Linked DNA regions of Homo sapiens: region 2 is linked to region 1. The links come from fine-mapping of genetic effects on gene expression. A gene starts in region 1. The other region holds a variant in brackets. All regions are shown on one strand. Distances are between the middles of the regions.

The links.
Region 2: its variant is fine-mapped to the expression of IKBKE in monocytes (Fairfax 2014, PIP 0.95).

Annotation. Positions count from the first base shown.
Region 1 is chr1:206,466,188-206,474,659 of GRCh38, reverse strand. IKBKE (inhibitor of nuclear factor kappa B kinase subunit epsilon) reads right to left here and starts at 4,184. Exons shown (of 22, transcript NM_014002.4): 1 at 3,962-4,184; 2 at 3,415-3,504; 3 at 1,346-1,464; 4 at 189-329. The coding sequence starts at 1,432. RefSeq lists enhancers at 1,608-1,667, 4,808-5,117, 4,637-5,274, 5,949-6,812, 6,813-7,674 and 1 more.
Region 2 is chr1:206,487,842-206,495,841 of GRCh38, reverse strand. IKBKE (inhibitor of nuclear factor kappa B kinase subunit epsilon) reads right to left here. Exons shown (of 22, transcript NM_014002.4): 16 at 7,852-7,928; 17 at 4,984-5,023; 18 at 4,093-4,194; 19 at 2,723-2,819; 20 at 2,464-2,576; 21 at 1,851-1,922. It overlaps IKBKE-AS1 (IKBKE antisense RNA 1), which reads left to right. Exons shown (of 2, transcript NR_172918.1): 2 at 2,766-4,726. Among named protein-coding and RNA genes, the nearest start is that of IKBKE-AS1, 5.9 kb to the left of the region's middle. The variant A/C (reference allele first, on the strand shown) is at 4,768.

The DNA of each region.
Region 1 (8,472 bases):
CTGTCCATCGTTCCTTTCCAGTGCACCGCCCCCACCCCCTTGCCCCCTTTGCTCCCTTCTGCAATTTGCCTGCTGTCTCTGACCTGCTGATGAGCATGGGACCAAATCTCTGTTATCATGTGGCCTGATTCTCCCCAGACCATAAGGGTCAAGGACAAGACCATTCTCTGACCAAGCACCGGACCTACCGTCTCCTCCACCGCAAAGAGCTTGACAATGTTCTGGTGGTTCAGCTTCCGCAGGACCTCAAACTCCCTCACCTGCACCTCGCGGGGCCGCAGGTAGCTGGTAGTGTTGAAGACCTTCACAGCAACCAGCTCTCCGGATTTCTGCCATTGGGGAGGGAGCAGTGGGAGACAGCATGGGATTAGCACATGTCCCACTCCCACAGGGGAGCAGCCACCCTCTCCTGGGCCTCCATTCAGCCTCTCCGGCCAGCCCAACCCCAGAGATTAGCCTGGTTGGATGGGGGCTCCCATCCGCACCGCCTTTCCCTCTCAAGGGGTAGAGAGTCCAGCACTGGGAGGTGACAAGATCCTGACACTCTGATCTTCTGCAGGGGATGGCTTGTTGTCATTATTACAATTGCTATTGACAATCATCACAGGGCAGCTAACACTCCCTGGGGTTAGCAGCAGGGAAGGGATTGGAACCTGGTCTGTATGGCTCCAATTCTTTTTTTTTTTTTTTTTTTTTTTTGAGACGGAGCCTCGCTCTGTCACCCAGGCTGGAGTGCAGTGTCAAGATCTCAGCTCACTGCAACCTCTGCCTCCCAGGTTCAAGCGATTCTCTGCCTCAGCCTCCTGAGTAGCTGGGATTACAGGTGCACGCCACCATGCCCAGCTAATTTTTGTATTTTTAGTAGAGACAGGGTTTCACCATCTTGACCAGGATGGTCTCGATCTCCTGACCTCGTGATCTGCCCACCTCGGCCTCCCAAAGTGCTGGGATTACAGGCATAAGCCACCGTGCCCGGCCGGCTACCACTCTTGAATAAGACAGAGTGGATATCATCTCATACATTCTCGCAGGATAAATCCAAACAAGGCCTAATTCCCCACTCTGCTATTCCTAGATTCCATTTGCTGTTACCTTCCTCGGATGTTTGCCTTGTTACTTCACAGTTCTCTTGCTCCAACTCGTGCCCGACAGAGGCATCCTCTCAAGGAGCCGTTTTCAGCTCCCTATGCCTCTGCTCAAACCCACAGTATGAGTGTGCTACACAACATCCAGAGGTCCCTGTCCCACCACCCTCAATGCCCACTGGGGGCTGACTGGGCCAGCTTCTGAGGCATGAGGGGGCCAAGGCTGGGCTGGACAGGGCCTGGCCAGGGTTGCTTCCTACCTTGTTGCGGGCCTTGTACACACTGGCAGTGGCCCCCTGCCCCAGCAGGTCATCTGTGTGCCACAGGTAATTGGCTGTGCTCTGCATCTCCTGCCCTGAGCTGGCTGGTCACCTTCTGCCTAGAGAAAGAGCATGCTGGGGGCCCAGGATTCCATTCCTGGCACAGGGTGGCCGCTGGTGGCCTGACCTGTAACTGTGCCCCAAGGCTACCCTAAGAAGGGCTCCATGTGGCCATTCCACAAGCAAGGGAGCGGGGGAAGTGTGAAGCACAGAAAGGTTAAGTAACTTCCCCAAAAGGACGCACAGCACAACAAGAGGGCCCCCACTGAGCCCTCAGCCCACAGCCGGCACCTGTTCCACCTGCTGCCTGTCCTGGCTCCCCACGTTCCCTTGAAGCCCCTCCTGAGGCAGGTCATTCTGCAGAGACAAACCTCTTGTCTCTACCACCTCTCCCCAGCACTGAAGATTCTGGGGTTTTGGCATCCAGGCTTGAGATTGTCCCAGGAAACAGAAACAGTATAGGAGGAAGGGCCCAGGGTCAGGGAGCATCTCCCACACCACCACAAATCTCCAGGATTGCAACATGAGTCCAGAGCCACTCCCCCAGCCCCCGCTGGCCTGCCTGCCAGGCCCACCACTTCCTGCTGCTGTGAGCTGACAGCCGGGCCAGTACTGCTCCAAGAGAGATGGGGCTGCTTCAGAGTGTGTGTGTGTGTGTGTGTGTGTGAGAGTGTGTGTGTGTGTATGTGTGTAGGGCGTTGGGGAGAAGGGTGTGGGTGTGTGTGTGAGAGCAGGGTATAGGGGAGGCAAAATTCATCATTCAGCCATTGGGAGAATCTGAAACCCCCTACAACTCTGTTTCCCATCTTTGTCCTCATCTTTTCCCCAAAGCCTAGTTCTCCTAAAGCAATTAGTACCAGAAAGTGTATCCTCAGAAGTTAAACTCAATTTCTCTTTGAAAAATAAGGCCAGTGCTGGCCTTTTTGGGATACCTGGGGACAGAAGCATTAGAAGGGCCACCATCCTTTAAATACTTTCTTTTTCCTTTTTCTTTTTTTTATTTTGACGTAAGGTCTCACTCTGTCATCCAGGCTGGGGTGCAGTGGTACAATCATGACTCACTGCAACCTCCACCCCCTGGGCTCAAGCAATCCTCCCAACTCAGCCTCCTGAGGAGCTTAGGACCATAGGTGTGCACCACCACACCTGGCTGTCTTTTGTATTTTTAGTAGAGATGGGTTTTTGCCATGTTGCCCAGGCTGGTCTTGAACTCCTGAGCTCAGGCAATCCGGCCACATGGGCTTCCCCAAAAAATTGCTGGGATTACAGGTGTGAGCCACCATGCCTGGCCACTTAAATACTTTTAAATAACGCTAGACTAGAAAAGGCATCTTCGTGTTCTAACATCTTACAGGTTCTCAAACTGAGGGTTGCCATGCCTGGAATCCTATGTTCCTTCGCTCTGAACTTTTTCTCTGTGTAATCTTTTTTAAAAATGCAAATCCTTGATAATGTCATTTCATTGAGCCAGAGGCCCCTTGAAGAGATCGGTGGTCAACTCCTAGTTTCAGATCAGGTAGGAGCGGACATTACACAGAAGCAACTGAGGTACTGAGAGGCTTCCTGAAGACAACACAGTAGCTCAGCATGAATGAGTGGGTCTGGTTTTCCCCGCTGAGGCTGGAGGCAGCCAGCAGGTCTGGGGGCTGGGGCTGGGGTTGGAGCACAGCAGGCTGAAATCAAGGCCAAGGGCTCTGATACTGGGGCAAGGAACAGCTCAGGACTCTGGGATAATAGGCAGTGAGGTGCAAAGCGCAGACCCCCAGACAAGCGGTGTGCCCCTGGATTCTGTGCCCGGGAGCTCTGGTTGTGGCACATCTGGCTTAACTCTGCACGCTCTGCAGATCCTCCCCCCACCACCCCAAGCACCTGGTGCAAAGAAGGGCTCAGTGGCCCTCAGCCAGTGGTTGGATGAATGAGCAGTGGACAGTGAAGCATGTGAGACACCACCCACCCACCTCTCCCCTCCCCTCCCTCCTCAGGGCTCTGCTGTGGCCAAGTGCACTTACCCCACACTCTGAGCTGCCCTGAGTCAGGCAAAGGCTCTTCCTGGCGAGTGTATGTTATGCTTTCTGTCTGTGGCACGTCCAGGAGCTGAGCTACACCGGAAAGAGGAGGGCGGATGAGAGGCGCCCCTCAGTGCAGTTGCTTCTCAGCCTCCATCAAAGGCCGCCGGCCCTAGCCCTTTAACCCTTTCCTGTTTGTCACCTTCCCCCACAGGGCTGGGCTGGGGGTTTCCAGCTCTATTCCCAAACTGTTCAGGGAGCCTTTCCCAGCGTCTCCTACTCCTGAGACTCCGGCCAGGGAGAAAGACCCCGGGAAAGGTGAGGGCAGGCGCTGGGTGCTGATCGCTGGCTTTGGGTGTTGGTAAGCAGAGCCCAGGGAGGGCTTGTGGTTGGCCCGTGGTGGCTCACCTCCATGCCACACACAACGCTCTATGTGAGAGCACCGCTGCCAACAAGCCCACACCCCTGCACCCGGCTGAGCTGCCCTGCAGCTGCCCCTTGTCTGGCCCCTCATTCCACCCCCACCCCCCTCCGCACGCTGCACACTCACCCCATCTCCACTGCAGGGGATGCAGGCTTGTGGGACTGGGTGACACCCCCAGAGCTTTCAGGGCTCACTGTCATTCATGAGCAGTGTTCTTAGCCTCCTGGTAGCCAAGGGCCCCTAGGACCCACAGGCAGGGCCAGTTGCAATGTCTGTGCCACCCCAGGAGCTGGGACTAGTGGGTTTCTTCCCTGCCTCCTTGTGGCGGTGGGACACCAAGCTCAGCACTGAGTCCTGGCTCTCAGCTCTCTCGCACTTCCTGATTTCCGTCTCTCGCTCTCTCTTTCTCTCTTAAAGAGACAGAGGCAACTCGGTGCAGCCACCAGCTCAGCAGAAAAGAGAAAGAGGATGCTCTGAGTTCCCAAGGGTAGGCAATAGGACCAGAGTGTGAGCCACAGAGAAGCCAGGAACTGGGGCCCTTCTGGTAATCTTGATGGGCAGCTGGGTGCTGTTTTGGCATCTCCCACAGTTCACTGGAGCAGGGAAGTTCAGGGCTCTTCCCAGAGTCAACAGAGCAGGTTGGGCAAGTTAACTAAGTGGAAAGCTGCCTGGGAAGTCCATGCTCCCACACCCAGGAACCCCAAGGAAGTGTGGGAGCTATGCCGATCCAGTCCTAGAAGTTGGATCTGAGTCACCTTCCCAGGAGGCCTGCAGAGGTCCGAGAGCAAGCGCGGGGACCCAGCTGATGCCTTCCAGTGTGACCTGAGCACACAGCATGCAGCCCCTCCCAGCCAGCTCACTCACCCGCAGAGTAACAGCTACTCTGTGGGTTGATTGGATGACATGGATATATTTGGAATTGTTTGGGAGCTTGGAAAGCATTTTACAGAAAGGCATTGAAGGCATGGAGGCCCACACACTTCAGTAATTTACCCATGCTCTTCAGAGACTGCTGGGGCTGGCACCCAGGTGCCAACTTCCCAGCCAGGACTCGATGCCCCACATCAAATGTCCTAGGAGGCTGGAGGGGTCTGTCCTGCTCTGGTCAGCTCAGAGATGGCAGTTGGATATGAAATGGTTAAAACCAGGAAATTCCATGTTTCTATAGAATGTTGGAGGGACTTTCCCATGGCCACACCTGGTGGTTTCCTCCGCCAGCCCCACCCCTCCCACAGTGACACTAGAACAGGAGCAGAGCTGAGAACTGCCTAGTGCTCAGATAAAGAGAACTCCCCATAACACCTCCAGCTGGAGGAGTTGCTGCAACTTCTCACATCAGGACCAGGAGGAATGTGCCTGAGTGCCTGAGATCCTCATGTTCCACCCAGTCTTCCCAGCTTGCTTTTTTTTTTTGAGATGGAGTCTCACTCTGTCACCCAGGCTGGAGTGCAGTGGCATGATGTTAGCTCACTGCAACCTCCACCTCCTGGGTTCAAGTGATTCTTCTGCCTCAGCCTCCCAAGTATCTGGGACTACAGGCATGCACCACCATGCCCGGCTAACTTTTTGTATTTTTAGTAGAGATGGGGTTTCACTGTGTGGTTGGTGAGGTGGATTGAACAGGTTGGACTTGATCTCCCAACCTCCTGATCCACCTGCCTCAGCCTCCCAAAGTGCCGGGATTACAGGCGTGAGCCAGTGGCTAATTTTTTGTATTTTTAGTAGAGATGGGGTTTCACTGTGTGGTTGGTGAGGTGGATTGAGCAGGTTGGTCTAGATCTCCCAACCTCCTGATCCACCTGCCTCAGTCTCCCAAAGTGCCGGGATTACAGGCGTGAGCCACTGCACCCAGCCTAGTCTTCCCAGGTTTCTGCCTGCCTGGCACATGGGAGAACTGCACATCCTAGTTACTTTGTGATAGGGGGAGCATGTGAGTTCCCCACCAAAGCATTTATTTCCTGATGCAAGACCCTCCCAGAACTCTGCTTTCTGGCAGTGTGATTCTGTTAGTCTGGGTCCTTGAGTGACTGTCCTGAGCAGAGTTCCCCTGCTGGTCCACAAGGGACATTGGCTTTGGTGAGAAATCAGCCTTTGTTGCTTTAGGGCACCGAGGTTTGCTACATAACTTAGACAATCCGTAATGTTTACCCACTTTTTTCCCTGATGAACCTGCTGGGTCCTCACCAGCACTCTTACTTTCCTCTCTCCGTCAATCTCTTTCCCAGCATATTTAGCACATTCAAAGGAAACTACCATGTGTCTAGCACCTGCTATGAGGCAGGCACTGTGTGCTCAGGATGTAAAGGTGGGCATCCCATCAGGAGCCTGGAGGTCCAGGATGGCATGGCAGATGCTATGAGTGGCAGACGCGCAGCGGGGAGGAAGGTGATCAAGAAGGGCTTTCCAGAAGGGTTGCTTGGCCAGACTTTAGGAAAAGGGGAGTTGGGCAGAGGAGAGGGGGCTGGGGGAATGGAATTCCAGGCTGTGGGCACATGTGCAGAGGCACAGAAGCATGAGAAGAGCCGGACTGAGGCTGTGAAAAGGGAGAGAGGTAGAGGTGGCCTGGAGCCATGTGCCGTGACAGATCAAGTTTCCTTGCGCATCCTCTGTGAGGTCACATCCTCTGTGTGGACACAGTGAAGCAATGTCTTGCCTGTGCCCCAGCCGGGCAGCACAGCCGGTTGCATCCGAGAAGGTGCAGGGGGCTGGCGGGCTCCAGAAGGGAAGAGGAAGTCTGTAAGAGTCCCCACCACGTGTTCCCAAGTGGCTCTGAGGAGTCCTAGAAATAGAAGTGGCAATCCAAGGGTAGTGCAAGGACCAGAGGTGGAAGAGGGCGGCCCTTGACAGCAGCTGTCAGAAAGAAAATCTCATGTGACTTCTACAAAGAGGCTGAAAGTATAGTAAGAAGGGCAGGGGCTAGCTCCATTGCCATGGAGGTTTGAGTTCAGATTTTACCACCTACTGTGGATGACCCTAGCACGTCACTCGACGTTTCTCATAGGGCTGGTTTGAAAGTAAAATGAGATGAAGCTCCTGGCACCTGGTCTGCTCTGAAAAGATATTAATTTCTTTTTCCACCTCTAAGGGGCCTGAGCCAGTTTTTCACAACTGACTCGCCGGCCCAGTGCCTTAAAGGGGAGGGGAAAGGACTCGGGTGCTGGTTGGGGTGCATATGGAAGAGGCTGGGGGGCATTGCCAGGCCATACGTTTTTGCTGTGCTCAGTCACAAGGGCAAAGGGCTGAGGGACGAGGTCTCAGAGCCCAGCTCTTTGTCACCTTCAGGGGTCAGCTCTGGCTAGGAGCTTTGGGTGCAGAAGGAGGGACAAACACTGCAGCCAATCTTGCTGCTATGGCCCCAAGCAGTGGGACAAGCTGTGAGGCAGCATCCAGGCCACTGAAGGAAATCGGCGCCGGTGCCAGCGTCGTCTCTCTTCGAGGAAAAGCAAGTGTTTCTCTCATTGTCTTCACTCTTCAAACCTCCTCTGCACTGTTCCCTCCTACACTGTCAGCTAAGGACCTTGCCTTAAACTTCGCTTAGATAAAAGAAGCAATCAGAAGGGAACCCCCTCATTTCCTCCCCCACATCCACTGCCTGCCCTGTGTCTGTACTCACCTGCCTTCCCTCCCACGCGACAGCAGGAAGTGCCTCTTCTTGAGCCTCTTCTAGTGGCCATGGCCAACCCTCCCGCTTGTACCCTGCAGCTCACCCTCTCCTCTCCTGCACATTCTTCCCGTTCTACTGCATCCTGCCCACCCCACCAACAAATGCACCTCTGCACTGCCCATCTTACCCTTGTCTCTCGATGCTCCCCATTCAACGAGTTGTCAAGTTACTGCCTCTTCCCTTCCCATTTGCCACCTAACCCACTCCAGTTGGACTCATTCCCCCTCTGCTGAAAATGCTCTTGTCCAATGATTCCCTTTCTATGCCACCCTCACCTTACCCCATTGGCATTCAACAGCAGATTCCCTGCTTTGTTGAAGCATTGTCCTCTCCTGCTGTCTGTGACCCTGTGCTTTCCCAGCCATCTACCTCATTGCCACTTGCTCATTCTGCCTTCTTTGCTGGCCCCCTTCCTCTGATGCATTTCTTTTTTTTTTTCTTTTCTTTCTTTTTTTTGAGACAGTTTCACTCTTGTTGCCCAGGCTGGGGGGCAATGGCGTGATCTTGGCTCACTGCAACCTCCACCTCCCGAGTTCAAGCGATTCTCCTGCCTCAACCTCCTGAGTAGCTGGGATTACATGCATGTGCCACCACGCCCAGATACTTTTTTTTTTTTTTGTATTTTTAGTAGAGGCGGGGTTTCTCCATGTTGGTCAGGCTGGTACCGAATTCTCGACCTCAGGTGATCCACCGCCTTGGACTCCCAAAGTGCTGGATTATAGGTGTGAGCCACTGCGCCCTCCCCCTCTGCTGCATTTCTAATGATCGGGACCTTCTCTTTTTTCCATCTCCACGCTCTTCCTGGGAATCTCTGTTTGAATACATCTATAATGTAATAGCTCCTAATACGTTTTCAGGTATTATCTACCCCCAGAACTCCAAATTCATACATCCAAGGGTCTACCTGATATTTCCACTTAGATGTCTACCAGTCATATCAGCCTTGCCAGATCAAGCAGAATACTTCATTTCC
Region 2 (8,000 bases), 21 kb before region 1:
CCCCTGGTGATTCCAGTGTGTAGCCAAGGTTTAGGAGGGGAAAGGAGTTTAAATGGATTCATTTGGCTCTTTGGCTACAGCTCTGAATAAGGAAGTGAAAATTCACTAAAATAAAGTTTTGAGCTATCTGCAAATAGATGACATATCACAGCAAGAGCAATTTTTGTTGGCACTAAAATTAGAACTTCCTGACCAAGAGGGCTGTTTTGGAAAATCCTTCCAAGAAGCTGTCAAATGTCCTCTTTGTGGGTGTTTAAGAGGATGAGTTCTCTTGCTGGAACAGGACAGGGAGGAGATTCCTCCCTTACCCAAGGACCCTCTGAAACTCTGGGGACAAACCACAAGCTCTGCTCCTGGTTTCCCTACCTCCTGGCCCCAATTCTAGTGTGAGACTGGAGTGGCCTCTGGGGAAGAAGTAACATTTAGTGAGCCCTTCCCTCCACACCCCCCTATGCGCAAGCACCTTGCATATCTCATTTTTTTAAATCCCTATGTCAACACCATGAGGTAGAAATTATTACTCCTGTTTCACAGGGGAGGGAACTGAAGCTCAAAGCTGAACACACCTCCCAGGGTCACGCAGTTGGTAAAAAGCAGGGTCAGGATTGAAATCCTGTAGGAACCTCTGCTGACTCTACCCTGCCATTGGTTCTCAGACAGGAAAATGACAGACACGAGGATGACAGGCAGGAGTGGGAGATGCGTGCACGTGTGTACATGTATATAAACAGGGCCGCTGGCCTTCAGGGCAAGCAAGGACCATCCTTTATCCTGAGGTTATCTCTCTTTGGTGGTAAAATGTGTTTTATAAAGTAGGGTTACTAGATGACAGGGCTTTTTTTTTTTTTTTTTTTTACTTCAAATGTGCTTACTTGGTTATGTGAGCAGCTGGTAACTCTGTTGTTCTCGAGTTTTCTTTTAGAACTATACTGGTACGTAGCCGGGCGCAGTGGTTCATGTCTGTAATCCCAGCACTTTGGGAGGCCAAGGCAGGCAGATCATCTGAGACCAGGAGTTTGAGACCAGCCTGGCCAAGATGGTGAAACCCTGTCTCTACTAAAAATATAAAAATTAACTGCGTGTGGTGGTGGACACCTGTAATCCTGGCTACTCAGGAGGCTGAGGCAGGAGAATTGCTTGAACCCAGGAGATGGAGGTTGCAGTGAGCCGACACAGTACCACTGCACTCCAGCCTGGGTGACAGAGTGAGACTCCGTCTCAAAAAAAAAAAAAAAAAAAAAAAAAAAAAGAAAGAACTTTTACTGGTATGCAAAATCTCAATCTCAGAGTCGGAGCCCTGTTGCGTTCCCACACCAACCTCTCATGACCCCTCAGCACCCCAAGGAGGGGAGTCAAATCAGGAGATGATCCTGCAGCCCCGGGCTGGCCCATGAGCATTGGCAGGAGGGACGGGAGCCCCACAAGGCCAGAGAAACACCGGCCTTGGGCATCGTATCCAAGGTGTCTGCGCTGTGGCTTCCTGGGGTAGCACATGGGGATGAAAACAGCACCTATCCTGAGGATGGCTGTGATTCAAGGAGGCATCTGGGGCAGCTTGAGCACAGAGTACATATGGAGTGCAGAGCTGGACACAGGCACAAACCCCATGCCTCCAGGCCCCCATCTCCCTGACAGCATGGAGGCTCACATTTTAAAGGCTGTAAGTGAACCCTACACCTCCTGAGGATGTCAACTCATTTGTGGAAAATGCCTAAGCTTCAACAGGGCTTCTTCGAAAATGGACACGTGTCATCAAACCTGCATGGGCAGGCTTGGGGACTCTTCACCACCCCCAGGCAAGGGTAGCTTGAAGACCCGGCCCTGACCTACACAAGGTGAAAGCTCCTTACCGTTCGATGATGCGGTTGTTGTCCAGGAGGTCAGATGCCAGCAGCTTCATCCCCTCGCAGAGCTCTTGCATGCTGCCCAAGGCAGAGGCAGGAGAGGCGGCTGAGGCTGGAAGTTGCCCTGCCCAGACCCTTTTCCTGGGAGGCCCACCCTCCTCTGCAGCCCCACCAAAGAAGCCTCTTTATTCTTTTTTGTTTGCTTATTTGAGACGGAGTCTTGCTCCTTTGCCCAGGCTGGAGTGCAGTGGCATAATCTTGGCTCACTGCAACCTCTGCCTCCTGGATTCAAGCAATTCTTATGCCTCAGCCTCCCAAGTAGCTGAGATTACAGGTGCCTGCCACCACACCCGGCTAAATTTTGTATTTTTACCAGAGATGGGGTTTCACCATGTTTGGCAGGTTGGTCTCCAACTTCTGGCCTCAAGTTGATCCGCTCACCTTGGCCTCTCAAAGTGCTGGGATTACAGGTGTGAGCCACCGCACCCAGCTAGTCTCTTTAATCTTGCCTCCTAGGCCTGGCATGACGCCAAACCCCTCAGGCTCTAACCTCAGCATACTCTGCTCCCTGCAACCCCCTTCCACACAGATACACAACCGCTTTCTCCCCAGCACTTACTGGAGAAGCAGGTCCTTTCGTGTAGGGCTGGGGTAAGGAGCTATGGGAGGCGGCGAGGCCTGAGCCCCCTTTGCTCGGTCCTGAAGGAGCTGGTGAGATAGCTCTTCCAGGAGCTGCAGGGAAGCCATACTTTGGTCAGCAATTAGTAGCCAGCTTATGTGTGGCTGGGTAGGGGGAGTGCTGGAGGAGGGGAAGACATGGGTAACAAGCGCCCCAGCCTGCATCCCCAGAGCACCTAGAATCCTTCTGCCATGCCCACCTTGCTGAGACTCTCCTGGACCCCCTGGGCTTCTGTGTTACAGGCAGCCACAGAACAGCCAACCAGGCGCAGGTGGTTCCTGGTCTCGTGCACCACCCTCAAGAGAACACACAGAGACTTAGAATTAGAGCAGGACTCAGCCCATTCCCCAGGGCTCGCCTAGCTGCCATCGGATCCACACATGGACACAGGTGGGTCCCGGGTATTTGCCTCCCTCGCTGCCTCTGCCCTGCCAGCTGTGCCCTCCACGCTTGCCCGCCCCACTGCAATAATGCAGAAGCACACAGCTGGCTGAGGCTGGGAGGCCCCCTTCAGAGCCGTAGTGTGGAGCACCAACAACATGCATGTGGCTGGGGCTGGGTGACGCATGCCACCTATGGTGAGCGTGGCACCAGTCAGGCTGCAGAGAGGCAGAGGATAGCCCACACCAGGGCTCTCAGTGTGGGGAACTGCCCACGCTCTCATTTCCAGTGTGAATTCTCTTCTATCTCTAAGTGGAGTGAAGGAACAGGAACATTTTCCCCAAGGCCCAGAGCTGTTAAATCAGGGGTTGGAGGTCAGCCCTCGCCACACATTAGAATCACCTGGAGAAGCTGTACTACACTGACATCCAAGCCCTGCTCCAGAGCAATTACACCAGAATGTGTGGTGGGTTGGAGTAGAAGAAGCAGGCATTGGTATTCTGATATGAGGACGGGTGAGTGCCAAGGTCTCAGCCCCATAACAAGGTGAGGTCCTACAGGCCTCAGAATGTGGTAGCACGTGGGAAATTGTCCTCTCTTCTCAGGAGGGGCCAGTGTTCACACAGGCAGGGGATGGAGAGTGGGCCTGATCTGAGAAGGCGGAACCCAAAACTCCTGAAGGGGACAGTGTGACAGAAGGTTCTACTTAAGGGCCACTGCCACTGTCCTTATCCCAGGGGCACCTAGTGTTCTCCTAAAGGAGACTTCTCAATATAACCAGGTGGAACGGTAGAAAGAATCCAGATTTGATTTGATTTTACCCCTCAAAAGCCCTGAAGAATCTAGATTGTAGAGGCAGGCAGAGCCACATACGAGTCTTGGGTCTGCCACTTACTAGCCATGTGATGTGCAGAGGAGACCTGTTCTCAGAGCCTCAGTTTCCTCACCTAGGAAATAGGGTGATGATATCTACTGTATAGGGCAGGTGTTGTAGGAGTAAATAAGCTGAGCTACAGAAATCTCCCAGCCAACTGCCTGGTCCACCCAGGGACAGAAAACCACTCCTCTGCTCACACCCCTTCACTCACTCCTCCCTCTGCCTCAGGGCTCCACAAAGCCCTGGGTCCTCTGAAGCCTAGAAGGGCCAGGCCAGGCCCTGGGCTCCAGGAGCTCAGGAGGGGCTGTTACCTCATCCTCTTGCCGTGTGTGACTAAGGACGCTTGATACTTCTGCACGCACTCCTCCTGGAACACCTGCAGGAGTCTTTTGGCTAAATGACTGAAATTCACCCTAGAACGACAGAGAACCAAGGTGCAGATGAGCTGCCAGAACCACTATGCACAAGCCCACCATCCCTCAGTCTCCGTCAGTCTCCGTCACCACCTTGTCGTAAGTGCCCAAGCCCTGCGTCCACAGCAGGGCTATGTCTCTGGGAAAGGAGGAAGGACGGTCACACACTTGGATTGTGAAGGTTGCAGTGGCCAGCAAAGCCCACATCAACAGGGAGACGTGGGAGACACACAGGGGGTCCTCAGGGAACACACATGTGCTCAAGCTTAGTCCTCAGGAAAGGGAAGGGAAAGTGAGGCAGCCGTGGAAAGAAGGTGTGTGAGTGCGTGTGTGTGTGAGACAAAAAGGGGTCGGGGTGCTTGTAGAACTGGGGGAGTGAGTTCCCAGATAACCATTAAATCAGGGAGGGCCTCCTGGACGTGAGTGTGTCCGGGAAACATGGGAGACAGAGGAGCGGGGGGAGGCAGGGAAGGTTCAGGCAGAGGGCAGAAGCAGGAAGTGGTAAGTGGTGCATCAGTGAGGACAACTAGAGAAAAAAAAAGCCTGCAAACAGTCTTGTCCATACCAGAAGTA[A/C]ATCCAGTTACTTCAAGATTGCATCTGAGAAGTCTCCCTCCAACTAAGCTATGCATACTCCCTCCCCTGGCCCCAGATAACCTGTTATCCCCAACTCTGCTCAGCTGCAGTCCGGGACAGGGCCCTTCACTGCCTCTCCTCTGGCGTTGAGAATCGCTCTGCCCTGAGGACACCCACCCTCCTGCCCACCCACCTGCCGGAGGACAGGCCACTCACTTATCCAGCTTGTGAATCTGCTCCTCGTTGTAGCCAAGCCCTGGAGGAAACAGACAGAACAGATGTCACCTATTCAATCAGTCAACGAAACAGTGTGCAGCAAAGGTCGAGAGACAGTTAAAAGATGAAGACGGCCCAGCCTGTGCTGCTTCACGGGAACTCACCGCCCAGCGGAGCAGGAGGGGCAGAGGAGTGAAGCTAGCACCGGAATAGCTGATTAGGACAAAGCCAGGGCCTCAAGAAGCCATGGGGAAATTGTGTGAGGGCCCCAGGGGAAGGCAGCCTGCAGTGCAGGGCCGGGGTGGGGACGTGGGGGATGCTTCAGGTGGGAGTTGGTGGATGAAGTGGGCTTAGAAGGAGGCTCGGTCAACCATAGCCCCTTATCCAGCACCCTCCCAGAGTGACTGATGCCTGCAGCTGGGTGGTCCCATCCCTGAATGTTCATGGGCGCTACCTGCAACGAGCTGGAGAAATCAGGCCACCACCTTCTACCTCCCCGCTCTGCCCAGCCACTTTTGCCAGAAAGGCTGAAGCTTTCATGGCCTTGGCTGCCTCCTGAAGGGCCCTAAGGCTCATGCACTAGGGAGATGCTGCCCCCTCCTGGTCTTCGCAGGAATGGGCCTCCAGGGTGGCGGCAGCCCCAAGATGAAATGATGATGGCGGTTCACTTCGAGGGCCTCCCCATCCCACTCCTCTCATAGCAGAGTCCCCCTCCTGGGCCCTGCACTCGGCCAGCTAAGAGCATGTGTGCAGTCCGAGAGACCTGGGACAAACCTCAGCCCTTCCTCCTGTTGGCAGGCGGCACTAGGCGAGTGATTTCACTTCGCTGAGCCTGTCTCCTTATCCATCACAGGTGCCACTTGGGAGTCCCGTGAGGCTCATGCGAGAGAGCCTGAAGACCACCGGGCATTTTAAAAAATGGTATCTTTCAACACGCTGGGTTTTAACAGTTAGGGGTTCATTTTTAATTTTATTAAAGGACTCTTAAAGACCAATAGAAGTAAAACTCCTTTGAGGCTGTAAAATGGGATAGTTAAAAGCAGCTGGACCTAGATTACTTGGGCTACTTAACCTTTCTGTGTCTTGGTTTTCTCATCTATAAAATGGGGAGGGTAATGATGCCTAGAGGTTTTGTTATTGTTGTTGTTTGAGACAGGGTCTCGCTCTTGCCCTGGCTGGAGTGCTGCAGTGGTGTGATCTTAGCTCACTGCAGTCTCGAACTCCCAGCTCCCAGGCTCAGGTGATCCTCCCACCTCAGCCTCCCAAGTAGTTAGGACTACAGGCGCATGCCCACGTCCAGCTAGTTTTGTTTATTTTTTGTAGAGACGGGGTCTTGCTATGTTGCCCAGGCTGGTCTTGAACTCCTGGGCCCAAGTGATCCTCCCGCTTCAGTTTTCCAAAGTGCTGAGATTACAGACATGAGCCACTGCACACAGCTCCATGTATGTGTGTGTGTGTATATATATATATATATATATATATATATATACACACACACACACACACACACACATATACACACATATATAAAATTTAGTTTCCCAATAGAGATGTGTTATAAATGTTATATATATGTGAATAATATATATATGAATAATATATATATGTGAATAATATATATATGAATTATATATATATATGTGAAATATAAAACAATGAAGTGATGGGAAAGCATCCTGTAGTCCCAGCTAGTCAGGAGCCTGAGATGGGAGGATGGCTTGAGCCCAGGAGGTTGAGGCGACAGTGAGCAGTGATCATGCCATTGTACTCCTGCCTGGGTGACAAAGGCCCTGTCTCAAATATATATATTAGCATGTAATCAATATAAACAGAATTGCTAAGGAAATAAGTTATATATTTATGTGTATATATACACGTGGGATTTTGAAGATAACACAAAAAGAATATAAGGTATTTCCTTAGTGATTTTGTTTATATTGATTACACGCTAAAATGACACTGGATATATTGGGTTGAATAACACATTAAAATTAATTTCACTTGTTTCTTTCTACTTTTTAAAAATTGGCTACTAGAAGACTTAGAATTACATACGTGTCTGGCATTATATTTCTATTGGACAGTGGTTTTTAGATAATCCCAAGGAGAGAAGAGAATTTGGCAATAAAGCCCAAGACCTTCAGCCTACAGATTAGGAAATGCTTGGGGCCTGGGAGAGGAGGGGGAGGTTTGGTTCCTGGTGTGTTAGTTCCCCAACCTGAGGAGTCAACTGGAGCCTCCGCAGGCTCCCTCCAACCCCCTCACCAGCCCTCCCTGGGTCCCACCCTTGCACTACCCCACAATGGCAGTCACTTTGGACAAGCAGCTTCCCACCCCCGAGCCTGTAAATGGGCTGCCCCTGCCACAGCATCCTTGTGAGGATTAATGGATCAAGCAGCCAAAATGCCTGACCCAGTGACTCAAAATGGGACTTCTCCTGACCCCCCCTTTTCTGGAAAACCTGACTGTCTCAGTGTCCCAAGGACACAACGGATAGTGACATTCTATACTTTAAAGTGCCCTGCCAAGGTGCGAGATCTCTTTCCAGGACCACCTCTCCTACAGCACCCAGGTCCCGGCCCACTGGATCCCCCAACCATGTGATCCAAGTCTCTCATGTGGCAACAGGCAGGCATGTAAAGGTTTCATGTCCCCCACTGGCCTGCAGGCAGCTTGCAGACAGGGGCCTTGCCCCTAGAGCAGCTGCACAGAACCATCCGCTTAGTGGGCCTCCAAGAACCACCAGCTGGAGGTTAGCGGCCACTTAGCTGGAGGTTAGTGGCCACTGGTAGCACCAGTGAAAAGGAAGAAAGGCGAAAGAAGGGAGACAGAGGAGAGAGAAGGGGCATCTGCCCTCCCCGGGCTCACCTGGCCTCATCCTAGACTTCTTGAACTGTTTGTAGATGAAGTTCATCTTGTCCAAACAGCACTGAATCTGCTGGATGCTGTGGGCAGGAGACAGGGACCAGGTGTTGGAAGAATCTAATAGCACAGAGGAAAGAGGGAGGGAGGGGAAG